Homo sapiens: one gene and its partner. The protein of the gene in region 1 interacts with the protein of each later gene in a pairwise test. Each region holds a gene or a part of one and is shown on either strand. Other genes may lie near its edges. The genes, in order: SOX6 and SHOX.

The links.
Region 2: the proteins of SOX6 (region 1) and SHOX interact in binary tests that used the Homo sapiens proteins (3 or more experiments, as listed by UniProt).

The regions. Positions count from the first base shown.
Region 1 is NC_000011.10:16,353,486-16,360,614, reverse strand, and holds the start of SOX6 (transcription factor SOX-6), read left to right. Parts: upstream 1-4,068; 5' UTR 4,069-4,521; intron 4,522-7,129. UniProt on the Homo sapiens protein: Transcription factor that plays a key role in several developmental processes, including neurogenesis, chondrocytes differentiation and cartilage formation.
Region 2 is NC_000023.11:633,515-640,798, reverse strand, and holds part of SHOX (short stature homeobox protein), read right to left. Parts: intron 6,182-7,284; coding exon 5,973-6,181; intron 1-5,972. UniProt on the Homo sapiens protein: Controls fundamental aspects of growth and development.

The DNA of each region.
Region 1 (7,129 bases):
ATGACACAATTCTTGTCCCCTTCTAGAGGCTGAGTAGTATAAGATATGTTTGGGCAGTACATCTTGCCTGAGGAGCCTGCTACAGGCACTATGGAGTTGACTGGGGATATGGAACATAAACATATAGGAGGAAACAAATACATATCTATTTTGATCCAATTAAATGAATGTTACACAAGTAATCGTGATAGGAATGCAATGGTGAACTAATATTTTGTGGACAGGCTTCTGGAAGAAGTAAGATATTAGCTGAGCCTTGAAGGTAGAGTCTGGAAATGTAGAGATGGGGAAGAGTTCTGTAGGGAAGGAAAGAATCAGAATATATACACATCATAATGTAGTGGAAAGGGTGCATCCAAACAGACTAGGCATCACCACCCAAACTCTGGTGATGCCTCTTACTAGTTGTACAACTTTAGATCAGCTACTCAGTCTCCCTTCTCTTCTGTGAAATGGGGGACAATGATATTTACTTTTTAAGATTATTGTAGGTCTTAGACATAGCCTGTGCAAAGCAGCTAGGATAGTTTTTGACACATGGTTAACATTCAGTAACTGATATCATTAGAAGTATAGTGTAAAAGTTAAAAGCATGGGATTTGGAGTCAGACAGGACTCACTTGAATCTCTTCTCTCTCATTTACTTTGTAACCATAGTCAAATTACTTAACCACTTCTAAGCCTCACTTAGCTCATCTGCAAATGGGGATAAATTGGTAGCTTTGTTGTGGGGTTGTTTTGAGATTTAATGAGGTACTGTGAAGCATAAAGTAATGAGCTTGTCGCATAGTATGCACTCAGTACCATTAGCCATTAGGTTGTTATTTTTATTAGTATAACTTCTCTCTTCTTCTTTGATATTTCCTTTGTGATTATTCATATTATTTCCTCCTCTTCGTTCCCTACTCGCTTCATCTACCTTCTTTCAACAACATTTATCAGTGGCATTTGTAGAGACTTAAAATGGAGACTTGAAAGAACGTAGAGGTAGAGAGGAACTGGTCAGTATCACATGTCGAGCAGAACACCAAGGACAAGATAAGAAAAGGACAGGTAGGCACAGATAAATACAAATGACAGGAGCATAAACATATATACAACCTTTTGGATGAGTCATCCTTCCTAAGGCCACTGGAGATTTTTTTTTCATAAGGGAAATTCAGACCTACTACTCCCTATGTTAATCCAATGATTTCCTATTTCCCAGAGGATAAAACCCAAACTATTTTGAATTGCATTTGAAATCCTTTCCAATCTGTTGTCATTCTGTCCTACTAGATATTTTTCCTGCTACTTCCCACCATGCACTCCATAGTTCAGTCACTTCAAAGTTCTTCCTCTTCTTGGAATGTAACCATATTCTTTTATAAGTCTCAGCCCTTGCACATCTTGGAATGTCCTTTTTTTTTTTAGTTCCACCAGACAAACTTCTCGTTCTGAGGACCCGGTTAAGTGAGTCTTCTGTAATGTCTCTGATCCCTCCAAAATGAGGTATTTGTTCCTTCTTCTGGGCTCCTACAATATATCTCTCTAGTACCTGGTTTCTTATCCTATCACTTTTCAATGGTTTATTTTCCATTTATATTTCTTGCTAGACTGTGGACTATGGGAAGTTGCTGTCTTATTTATATGCCTCTGTATGTCTGTCTGGCAGTCAGTATGGTACTTGACACAGTGCAGGTAGTCAGTAAATATTTGTAGGCTAAATAAAAGAGGTAGTAGACACAGAACTGGCAACTTCTCTGGTTCACAAGCCAATTTTAGTATTTCTCCTATTAGGATTGCCTTAGAGTCATAGGCTAATAAAATTTCAGTGTTAGAAACATACCTCATTTTACAGATAAAGAATTGAGGCCAGAGAAAAGGGATTTTCTTTTCTTTCTCTTTCAGGTCAAACCATGATTCTGTTTCCTTCAGAACACTGTGGCAAAATATCTACTACTTGAAAGGAAGCTTATTGAGAAAAATCCTGCTAATTTCTTTCCCTCTTATGGCCTGTCTTCCAGATAATTTCTCCAAACACTTCTTATTTAGGTGTTCTTTCTAGACCAGTAATTGGGGCATAAGTTGATGCTCTGCCACATGAATCGATGTGCATATATGTATATTTTAGTCATGTTGTGTTCTGTTCAGCTGCTAGATGTTCAAACCAACTGGGTTTCCCCTTAGTTACCCTGTTTGTTTGCTGTAACACTTTCCTGTTGGTAGAACTATTTGTTCTTTCATAATAAAATTGAGAATTTTCTTGTAAAATATATTTTTAAGGTAAAACAATGTAATGATTTGTCCTGGCATTCTATAATTTTGAAAGTCGTTGATGGCAGGAGAATGGCAGAGTGGAAGGATGTCTCCTAGTTATAGTTTTATTAGTAATGTGCTGATGTTTAATGGTTTATCAGGACTGAATTTATTTGAAAAGAAAACCATCTAATGTGGTCAGAGTCATCTTTTGTTCACTATGGCTCTGGCCCTTTTTGGGGAGTAAATCAGCTTTTTATGTATACATTCTGCATGGGAGCTGTAATAAGTGAGCACATGTTGCAAATGCTGTGACCTTCAGTCAACTAGAGAAAGATACCTCTTCTAATCAAAGGCAAAAGCCACGATCTTTCTTGTTGTAACTTACTGTTGACACAAGAAAGGCCAGAGAGATTGACATCAATCTCTATAGAAACCATTAACCAATGCTGAATAAATCTGCAGCATTGAATCCATATGCATGCTTGCTTTTATTATTCTTGACCTATGGGCACACTTCAGCATTTTGTGGGCTTTGTTTTAAAAGGAATGTTTAAAATGTAGCTAGTTATTATGGGATTTCGTTGGTGAAATAAATTGTTTGGGTAGTCTAAATAAAAGAATCCGTATTATTTTGCATCTACTAAGCATTATTTGTTTAGGTGTGGCTTGGTTTGATTCCAGATTAACACACAGCGAAGGCTGTCACTTTAGCTGGGTGTAGCAAAAACCAAGTAGTTTTATACATGTTTTCCAAATGATGTGCAAGCAATGTGTCATTTGATTCTAATTGTGACTTTATTGGCTTGTGGTCCCTCTTTTTTATTCTTTAAAGCATTAACAATGACTGTGTTGGCTGAAAAGACATACGTCTTTAAGAATTCCATGGATGCCCAAAACTCAGTTGGTTATAAGTACTAACAATTGCCGACCGTACGCATAGCAGAAATAGGCTCTGTAAATCAGAGCTTCAGTGCTCTGGGCCCCTCTTCCTTAATTCTCCCGCACAGAAATCGTATTTCTAGTTGAGGAGGGTGAGAAAACAAAAATGCTTTTCATTTCATTCTGTGCTGTACATTTTCCAGTCTGGGTGACTAAAGCTGGCCAGGGTGCCTATTTTTGGAAAGAGGAATTAAGATACTTTGGAGAAAGTAGTGCACTGTGTGCTGACATTCCAGATGGCCAAACTATAGTAGTACCAAGCCCAAGTTTTTGAGCCTTTCGTGCCAATGATGACCTCATGAGGTCCAGCCTGGAGAAATAGAGACATAGTTCTCCAACAATGATGAAGAATGGCTTCTTCCTTTCATATTTCTATTGAGTGATCTCCAGTGTCCTCCTCTTTTCCTGTCTCTGACAAAATTAGCCTTTTATAATTAACAATTGTTAGTTTTTTGGCTTGTCTTTCAGACTTCTCTTAGAGTCCCTTTCACCCCATCTACTTATTGTATCCTCTCTACCAAACAGAAAAACTTGTGATATTTTTCTCTTTGGCATTCCTGTCTTTTCCTAGCAGGCTTTTTTAATGGGGACTGTGGGAGATTTTACACTTGATTTGTTGAATCTGAACTCTTTGCTGTAAACTCTCACCACACAGAAGAAACTATCTTTATAAATGACAGAATGGACCTGGCCTGAATGGCGCTTTGTTTACTGTTTTCCTAAAAGGGGCCCCTCTATATTTCATCTGTCAAAGTTGCTTTTCTTTCTTTCAACAATGCTTGATTGTTTTCACAAAAATTCAGGTTCCATAGACAGGAGAATTCTGTATTATATTTTCCTGCCAAATTCCGATCTCTGTTTTCCTTCCCCTGTGCTCACAAAGGGCTCATAACTTACTGTCAACTGTGAGGCAAACCACAAAGCTCCACTGTTGCTCAGCAAATAGGCTCTATTGGATGATGGCTTGACTAGCTTGTAAAGTTTGCTTAACTGTAGCAGCAGTGGCAGAAGGTATGTGGGGTACTGTATCTCCCAACAGGCCAAGAGATTTCACTTCTTTCATTTACTTTTATGTTTTTAACTCCTTTAATTGTTGAACAAAGTTAACAGTGTTTTGTTTAGCAAATTAGATGTTGCTTAAAGTTATGGCTACAATTGGTAGCCTGAGACTTGGCAGAGATTAATTAGCTGTGGGGTTGGGTTTTTTTTTTTTTTGGTTGGCAGTCAGAGGTTTCTTGTGATTTGGGAAGGTGTCAAAGGTGTTATGCCCTCAAGTTCTGAAGTTCTGGCTGATGTGGTAAGAGAAAGCCGGATTGAAGAGTGGAAGAGCAGCCACTTCATGTGAGTGATTTGTGCTTCCTTTAGCTGTCACAGGTCTTGGCTGTATTACTTTACCTTTTAATTTTTCTAACTTCAAAGCCTACCTGATTGGGTGGGATGATGGCTTGTTAAGAAAAGCTTATGTTATGGTAATAAGGTAATAACTTGAAAAGCATTTTTGCATGACATTTGTAATCTTGCTAGGGAATTGCAACAGACTATTTAAAAACAGATTTGGTTTTCCTGAGGGTTGAATATGCATACCTTTATTTGTAGCATCTCGTAGATTTTTAACATGTGATTATTTTTTCTGTATAATCTAAGGTCCTGAGTACTATTATCTATGAGGAATCATAGATTCCCTACATGAATCTTTTCAATAAAATCAATCTTTCCAATATACACGGCTAGTTTCTAATATATGCTGCATCTGATAAGGTATTTTATGCACTATGGTAAAAGATGTTTTTACTAATGAAAATATTTAATCATAATAAACATTTCAAAGAAACACAACTGACAAGCAGACCACTGGGTAATTGCTGATGTGTTTTTAGTAAAAACTTAAAATTATTAATGTTCATAAGCTGCTATAACTAAGCAAGACTGGTATTACATTGAGATTTATAGTATTTAATGCTATAACTATGTATTGAAAGTATTATTTATATAAAACTATAGTAAATTAAATTGATGATTGGCAAGTGCATTAAAAATAGTGCTTTATCAATGCTTTTCAATTTACTCCTTTTTATTCTGCGATACATTTCTTTTGAATTTTTCTGAGTAACACACACCTTGAATTTGTTTTCCATCATGCCTGTCAAAGTTCAAAATATTAATTTGTTTCTTTCCTTATCCAGCTTTCCTAGATACCTTATTGTTTGTGAGTTTGGTCTTTAGGCAAGTTTATCTTGATGATGGAACTTTCAGCTTCAAATTGTGGAAATAGTGATCTCAAACTACACATGGAATAGTGTGTCATTGTTCTAAGCTGTGGTACAGTTAATAATACCTATTTTGTGATAATGAATTGACCAGAATACCAAACAGTTAGTCTAGCAAATCTATGACTCCTCAAGTTGATTTTCTAAAGTGAATTGTGAGAGGAGAATTTTAAGGTAAGCTGCTTTCAATCAGCTCATGAGAATGTGCTGGGGTTCTTTAGCACACTAGTAGCAACTTGATTTTAGACCTGATTTAGAAATAAAAAAAAATTGTGTGAAACAAGTAACATTTTGGAACATTTAGTGTTGGGCCAGGGGACAAGAAAATAATCAGGCTTTGAAAGGTATTCATGTATTTCATAGGATAGGGTAGCTCAGACTTTTTATTTATTGTCAAGTTAATTTAAGCTCTGGTAGCAATTTTAGTATACTGCAAGGCTGCTTCTGTTTAAAAATTAATTCTGAGCAAATGGGTTACAGTCTCCAAATACTTGGACCGTTTTAGTTGAAAATCAAGGAAAGAGGTTAATAATAGGTGGTTTGAATAGGCACCTACAGCTCAGGACTCTATTGTCCTTAGGAATACAGTTATCAGCAGCAGATGCTGTAGGCTTTGGTCTTCCCTGTGTAAAAAGTGATTCCCTCCTGTCCATACCCCTTTTGAGAAACAGTAACAATATATTTTTACCCTGTGCTTTTTATTTTCTTGGCATGGTTCTTGTCATTAGTTCACTCAGCACTGGGTCACGAGTATATTGGGACTGGAAAACTTATATTCCGTGGAATTTTTATTTATTGTGATGTGTAAAAATTCAGAATCTTTTTCTTTAAGGATTTTTATTTGTTTTTGTTTGAGTCAAACCATTTTTCTGTCAAGTTTTCTTTAAAGAAAGTTAGCATTTGTTTCATAACTACCAAATACCAGGTATTTGCACATATATCAAATTAATCTCTTCACAACAACTTTTCAAGGAAGATGTGTTGTCCCTAATTTTATAGATGGGTACATAGAGACTCAGAGAGTTAAGTAACTTCTGAAGTTCACAGACATAGTAAATGAGATTTAAGTCTTTCCTCTAAACCTTTCCATTATACTGTACTTTTCCTTCTGGCAATAGATCCTGGTAAGACTGGTAGCAAGCAGTTTTCCAGTTCTAGGCACCATGGATGCAAATAAAGTATTACTTTTGAAGAAATCTAAAAAGCTGGTAGATTAGGCATGATAAATGTAAAAGTTTTTCAGGGGACTACTCAATTTTGGGAAATCGTGAGGTGGAGGTGGTGGTTATATGAGAAGAAAGAACAGGACCAGATAAATAATGCAGGATTCTTTCCTATAACTAACACCACAGCTTGGGAAAACCAGAAATTCTGTACCTTGGTAGGTGTGCAAATATGTACTTGGTAAAGAATCCCTTAAGTATGCAAGACAGCAGGTAGTCATACTTGTCTTTTATAATGATAACTCAAACAATTCTGTGCAATGATTCATGGAAACAATTGGATTCTCATGTTCTCCTGGAGCTGTTTATGATAATTCCAGCAAATGCAAGTGAGAAATTTAAAGCAAATAGCTATAAGAAAGGGAGGAGGTGGTGGAAGTACAGAGGGAGAAATACAAGATAGCAGCACTTTAGTTATTTGTGAAACCAGACTGTTTGGTGTGTATAAAAAAATGTGGA
Region 2 (7,284 bases), on another chromosome or scaffold:
TGTGAAGAGCCCTGTGAACCCAGCCCAGCCTCCCCAGGGAGCATCCTTCCCATGAGGCTGAACCAAGCACTTTGCACCTCTGGGAGCTGGGAGGTGACTGATGGTGGGCGCCCAGACACTTACCGCCCCTCTGTCTCCAGCCCTGCATCACTGACTACCTAGTACTGGAAATTGGGGTTTTTTTGGATTTTTTGTTTTGTTTTGTTGTGGTGGTGGTGGTTCTGAAATCAAGTCTCGCTCTGTCGCCCAGGCTGGAGTGCAGTGGCACTATCTCGGCTCACTGCAAGCTCCACCTCCCAGGTTCAAGCCATTCTCCTGCCTCAGCCTCCCGAGTAGCTGGGACTACAGGTGCCCACCACCATGCCCGGCTAATTTTGTATTTTAGTAGAGACGCGGTTTCACCATGTTGGCCAGGCTGGTCTCTTGTTTTTTGTTTTTGCTTTCTTTTGTTTTTGAGACGGAGTCTTGCTCTCTGGTCCAGGCTGGACTGCAGTGGCACTATCTCGCCTCCCTGCAACCTCCACCTCCCAGATTCAAGCAATTCTCCAGCCTCAGCTTCCCGAGTAGCTGGGATTACAGGCGCACACCACCACACCTAGCTAACGTTTGTATTTTTAGTAGAGATGGGGTTTCACCATGTTGGCCAGGCTGGTCTCGAACTCCTGACCTCAAGCGATCCACCCTCCTGGGCCTCCCAAAGTGCTGGGATGACAGGCGTGAGCCACTGCACCTGGCCTAGAACTGGAAATTGGGTTTTCTTTTTTGATTTTTGTTTTGTTTTTGTTTTATTTTGTTTTTGAGACAGAGTCTTGCTCTCTCATCCAGGCTGGAGTGCAGTGGTGTGATCTCACCTCACTGCAACGTCCACCTCCCAGGTTCAAGCGATTCTCCTGCCTCAGCCTCCCGAGTAGCTGGAATTACAGGTGCTCACCACCATGCCTGGCTAATTTTCGTATTTTAGTAGAGACGGGGTTTCACCATGTTGGCCAGGCTGGTCTCAAACTCCTGACCTCAAGCGATCCACCCTCCTGGGCCTCCCAAAGTGCTGGGATTAGAGGTGTGAGCCACCGCACCTGACCTAGAAGTAGAAATTGTTAAATCATCCGTGCCCTGCCTAAGTGAGACCTATGCGTTACCGCTGATGAACTTAAGGTGAAAAAGTGAGTTCCGAGCCAGTGGAAGTGGACTGTCGAACTTTCCAGCGTTCTGTGTGGGCGCCCCGCCCCCCAACTCCTGTAGACCCTGTAGGAGAACCGAAGTTTCCACCTTCAGACTTTAGCCACAAACGGAGAGGGTGAGCTGATGGCTAAAGAGTTCCAAATCCAGCCCCTTCTCCAATCTAGCTCTTGACACACCAAGCCCAGAAAATGTCTTTGCCCTTCTCGGCCTCCTCGGAAGTGTCTTTGCCCTTCTCGGCCTCCTCGGAAGCCCTGGGGAGCTGAAGGCGTCCCATTCATATTACCAAGGGTCCCCATACATGAAAGGGTCCCATTCATGACCAAGGGTCATGAGGACGCCCAAGGATAGCAGGCTTTGTGGTGGGGGCATTCTGCCCCTCTAAGGACTTCTGAGTCTTGGGGTAAACTATCAAGAAGTTGAGTGCAATAGCGCAGGGGACCCTCAGGAGGCTGGAGAAATTCACACAGGCCTCATGTGAAGATTTGCATGCAAATTCCACCCCCTCTCACCTCCTACGAGCCTCCTCTGCTCTCCCAGTATTGACAATCCCCTCCTCCACAGACAGACCAGCTGGAGAGTGCAGGCAGTTTAGCCTATGCCTGGTAATCTGGACACCACCCCCTCCTCTCCCCCACCACCACCTCCCTGACAGTCTTAGTCGCTTAATTCCTCCTAACAGGTTTTCTGTGGCAGAAAACCTGCACCTTGACCCACAAGGCAGTCACCACCCAAGAGAAATGATTCGTCCAGAGAACAGGCGTCCTCCGCCAAGGCGGTGAGTGAACCAGTCACTCCGGCTGTTGTGGGCAAAACACGTGCTGGGTCCCTCGGCCCACAGCCACCCTTACACACTGTGCATGGCCCAGGGCCGGTGCCCCTATGAAGGGAACCTCAGAAAACCCTCAGAGTTTGGGAGCAGCCAGGAGTCTACACAGCGCAACGTGAACTTGCTCTTGAACCCAACACGGAAGCTTCCAGCCCAGCTTTCGGAACTGGCTTTTCATTTCCAAAGTGGGTCCTACCGGGCTGCAGTGCGCCTGGAGAACCTGATCCTGTTTCCCAGCAAAGTCATCCTCCCTCACACCCCCGCCAAAAAGGCCCCTGCCTGGTGCTGACATCGAAATTCACCAATAATTTCCAAAGCTGGCGCCTTCAGACCTCCACCTCCACTGACCATCCAGGTGACCTGCCACTGTGCCTCTCCATGCCCACCTGGACTCTCCGCCTGTCTCCTCCAGGGCCCAGAAAGCAAGCCAGCCACCCAAAAGCCTCTGGAAGGGCATTTTTCAAAAAAGAAAATCCTCCTGAAACGTGGAAAGCCTCATTCACTCTCCCTTCAACACGGCGAGAGGAAAAAAAAAAATGATGAAGAATACAAGTGATGAATTAGCCGCTGCGTGAAGCGCTAATAAATCAGTCTTGGAGTGATTCACGATCCATTCCAATTAGGCCCGAATATGGTAAGTGAAGTGTGTGACACTGCTTAAGACAGTTATTTCTTCATTAAAGAGCACTCCCCGCTTTCTTTCCCAAATGCCGTAATGCGATTTCCTTTTGATTTCCATTACAGACAGTGAATAATGACATTTAATTTAGCTCTGCGCCATAAACCCAAAGATATTTGTTGTAATTAAATTACCGCCTGCCCCTCACCGTGGTCTCATAACTTTCGATTAGAAGCCTGACAGCTGGGTGATACGACTTTGCAGGGCCACGCTAAAAATAAAAGGTTAATCAGCAACAGCTTCTATCGGATGCTCAATTTATTTACAGCAAATTTCCACAGTAAATTGAAACTCTATCCGGTCACAGCACGGGACGGGCTGTACTGAGACGCATGTGACCCAAGAATTCACAGAGAGATGGGATTCAAATATGGTTTCTTTTTCTGTCCCTGCTCGTCCCCGTCCCCTCAACGCGGGACGTGGGTGTTGGAACTAATTGATTTTTATGACCCCTCAAAGCGCACTCGCCTTTACTATAGGATCCTTTCCCCCCGCGGCGATGGAGAATTATGTCTTTTATTGCATTCCCATGTTTGTTGTTATTATTATTTACCGTCGTTAAATTTTCATGCGACCCCTGCAATCGATAACCCCCAGCTTGTCCCCGATTTGTCTTTATTTTAGGGCGTTCTCGGGGTCCGCACACACCCCACAACCAATTTTCCGCAGCTGAACTAACGTGCTCTCGTCGGTAATAGACTACGGAAAGAAATAGTGTGGAATTAAATTACAAGTAATTTATTTTTATAGAAACAGTACATCAAGGGCTGGGATATATTGCAGATCCCAGGCACACAGACACCAGGAGATGACACATAAACTCGATGTCCCCTTTAGCGAAACTTTAATCTTTTCATTAATTTATACGGGGCAGCCCAATCCATCTTCTGCCAGAGGGGTGGACAGCGAGGAAACCCCTGTCTGATGCAGCTTCCTTCCCTCACTGAGGCCACAGACGCCCTAAGGAGGGACACAGTCCTTCCTCCAAGTCACCAAAGCCTCTCTCCCTCCTGGGCTGTATCGCTTTGGGGACCACAGCCCTCGGTAAAGATGCCTGGGGAGGGTTGATTTAATCCTAACGATCTTAGGGAAGCCTTTTAAAATGCAGCCACATGGGAAGACGGAAGAGAATCAGGAGCCAAAATATATATATATATATATATATATTTTTAAATGAAAGAGCTCGTAAAACCCTCTCCATCAAACGCATCTGTATCCTCATCTCCTAAGCAACATCGATGGAAAAGTTGTGTTTGAATGTGTTGACTCAATCACCCATCCCACAGGAACCGAAGGGAATCAGGGGCCAAAAATATATATATATTTTTATATGTATATATATGTTAATATATATATTTTTATATGTATATATATGTTTATATATATATTTTATGTATATATATGTTTATATATATATTTTATGTATATATATGTTTATATATGTATATTTTATATGTATATATGTTTATATATATTTCTTTATATGTATATATATGTTTATATATGTATATTTTATATGTATATATGTTTATATATATTTCTTTATATGTATATATGTTTATATATATTTTTATATGTATATATATGTTTATATATATATTTTATGTATATATATGTTTATATATGTATATTTTATATGTATATATGTTTATATATATTTCTTTATATGTATATATGTTTATATATATTTTTATATGTATATATATGTTTTTATATATATTTATATATATACAATATGTTTGTATATATTTATATATGTTTATATATTTATATATGTTTATATGTTTATATATATTTATACATATTTTATATATGTTAATATATTTATATATTATATATGTTTATATATTTATGTTTATATATTATATATGTTTATAGATTTATATATTATATATGTGTTTATATATTTATATATGTATATAGATTATATATATTTACATACATTTATGTATGTTTATATATTTATATATGTTTATATATAGAGACACACATATAATGAAAGATGTAACACACTTTGGATCAAATGCATCTGTATCTTCCTCTGCTCAGCAAAATCGAGAGCAAGCTGTGTTTGAATGTGTTGACCTCATAACCAGTCCTACGGGAACGGGCTTTCAGTTCGTCTCTTTGCTTTGAACGCCGTTTGCTTTGTCACGGTTCTCTCTCTGGTCGGCAATCTTAATTTCATTTATTTTTGACGGGGTCCCCAGGGTCCGGGGATCCTGACCGTCTCTCTCTCTCTCTCTCTCTCTCTCTCCCTCCCCCCACTTCTGTCCTGCCCAGAACCAGGAGAAAGGACTAGAGGAGTTGACCTTCCAGGGGAGCTGAACTGTCAGGCAGGGGCTGGAAGAAGCCATTTGGAGGCTCTCCCAGCAGCACCCCTGAAATAAACTCATACCTTTAAGTGAATGTTTAGAATGCGGAGGAAGGCTCTGCCCGCCCGTCCCTCTGCGCACACCCAAGGCCCCTCCGCCCCCCAGTGCCTGGTCTCATGGGGCAGCGTGAATTCGCGCGCTCCTCGGGGAGCCCCCGTGCCCCGCTAATAGTCTCCGCTCATCCAGATGCCCAACGTGCTCCTGCGCTCCCCACAGCCGGAGGGAGGAGGGGGTGGTTTGTAGCAGAGGACAGGGCTGGAGAGGGGAGGAGGGAGATAGAAACGGTAGGTGAAAAAACGGAGGAAAGAGAAGACCCTGTTTCTCTCCACCTAGGGACAGAGGACACCCCTCTCCTTTCATCCTAAGGAAACCTTTTCAATGCAGCCACACGGGAAGACGGAGGGGAATCAGGGGCCAAAAGACACATTTTTTTTTAAATGAAAAATCTTGTAAAACACTCTGGATCAAACGCATCTGTAGCTTCGTCTCCTAAGTATAATCCAGGGAAAGTTTTGTTTGCATGTGTTGCCCCTATAACCAATCCCAGGGGAACCGAAGGCAGTCAGGAGCCAATATATGGGTTCACCGGGTGTCTTTGCACCAAGGACGAACAAATATCTATAATATATACAATATACCCATCTGTATAACATATATATTTATTTGTTATTTGTATAATATATATGTATATATATTTGTTTGCTGTTGGTGAAAAACAAACGCAATGAACCCATCCTACAGGCCTCAGGCGTCTCCAAAAGTCCAGGAACCCCAGCCCGTCCCTCACCCAACCTCCCCGCGCTCCGGGAAGGGGACGGCGGCGGCCCGGGCGCAGGTGGCTGTACGCGTGCTGTGCGCTCCCGAGGACCAGGCGATGGCTCCGGGCCCCCCGCCCCCGCCCCCGGGTTCCTACCTGCACGCGCGCCTCGGAGAGCCCCAGGCGCTGGCTGAGCTCCTCGCGCATGAAGGCGTCGGGGTAATGGGTCTCGTCGAAGAGTCGCTCGAGCTCGTTCAGCTGCTCCAGCGTGAAGTTGGTGCGGCTGCGCCTCTGTTTCAGCTTGGTCTGCCCGTCCTCGTCCTCCGACTTCACGTCCTCGCGCTTCTCTTTGCATTCATAAATCCCTGCGTGGGGAGCGGAGGGCACAGGGCTGAGGCCGGGGAGGTTTTGCGCAACGTGGCGAACCCCTTCGTGCATCCCGCGGTGGAAAGGGGGCCCTCGAAAACCAATGCGCTTTGACGCAAAAACTGCGTGGGGTCCATAAGGCAAAAGCCGAGGAGGATACTCGCTGCTTTCCCAAAAACCTGGGCTTTGCACGAGCGTTGTTTTCTTGGCCTCATCTCAGAATCGTTTCCTCAATTATCCACTTCACCTCTGTTGACATAACCTAACCTTTTTTTCTTATTTTTTTTTTTAAGGAGAGTGGGGTGTCAAATCCTATTTTTAAGGGAAAGAATTTGAGGAAGAGCTGCCAACTGTGGGATCCCCGGCGGGACGCCCGGGAAGGACACGGGGAGGACCCGGGGCGGGTTGCAGATTCTAGGCCTACGGAGAGACGCTATCCCCACCGCTGCAGCGCAGGAGGGCTGGGGGTCCCTCCGCGATCTGGCGGAGCTAGGAGCCCCTACCCGAAGCCTGTTTCTCAGCAGAACAGCAGAACCGCGTCTGAGTACCTGAATGCGCCACCGCGCCTGGGGGCTGAACCGCGTGCGCAGAAATCTCTCCTTCCCACTTTTTCACACGCGGTCGGGCACCTACCCCACCAGAGTGTGCCAAAAATGGCACTTTCTCATCTCCAGTAGTTGGTGACCTGTCTGTATTTGCTGGGGGAGTCAGAAGGGCAGAAGACTCAGCCCTCAAGCGTTTCCAGGTGAAAAACCTTTTCTTCCTCATTTTAGACATTCAGCCTCTCTGACCAAGCTCAGGGGTTTAAGTAAAAGGTGTCTCCCTCGCTCCCCTTCAACCCAGGGCTGGTGGAAGTGGCATCTCCAACGCCCCTCTGTTCCTATCTCGGGCCTGCTGAGCACAGATGAGAAGCACGCGATGCCCTAATGAGATGTCCCTTGCTGTCAAGGGTAAGGGGCTGACATTTGGAAGTTTAGTCTGGAAACAGTCTCAAAGGGGCACAGGCAAGGCCGCTGCAACCAAGAAGCTTGCAAAGCTGACAAATCCAGGGTGTCTACAGGGAACGGGGTAAATACTAGCACCCTGTTCTGTCTTTCTTCCT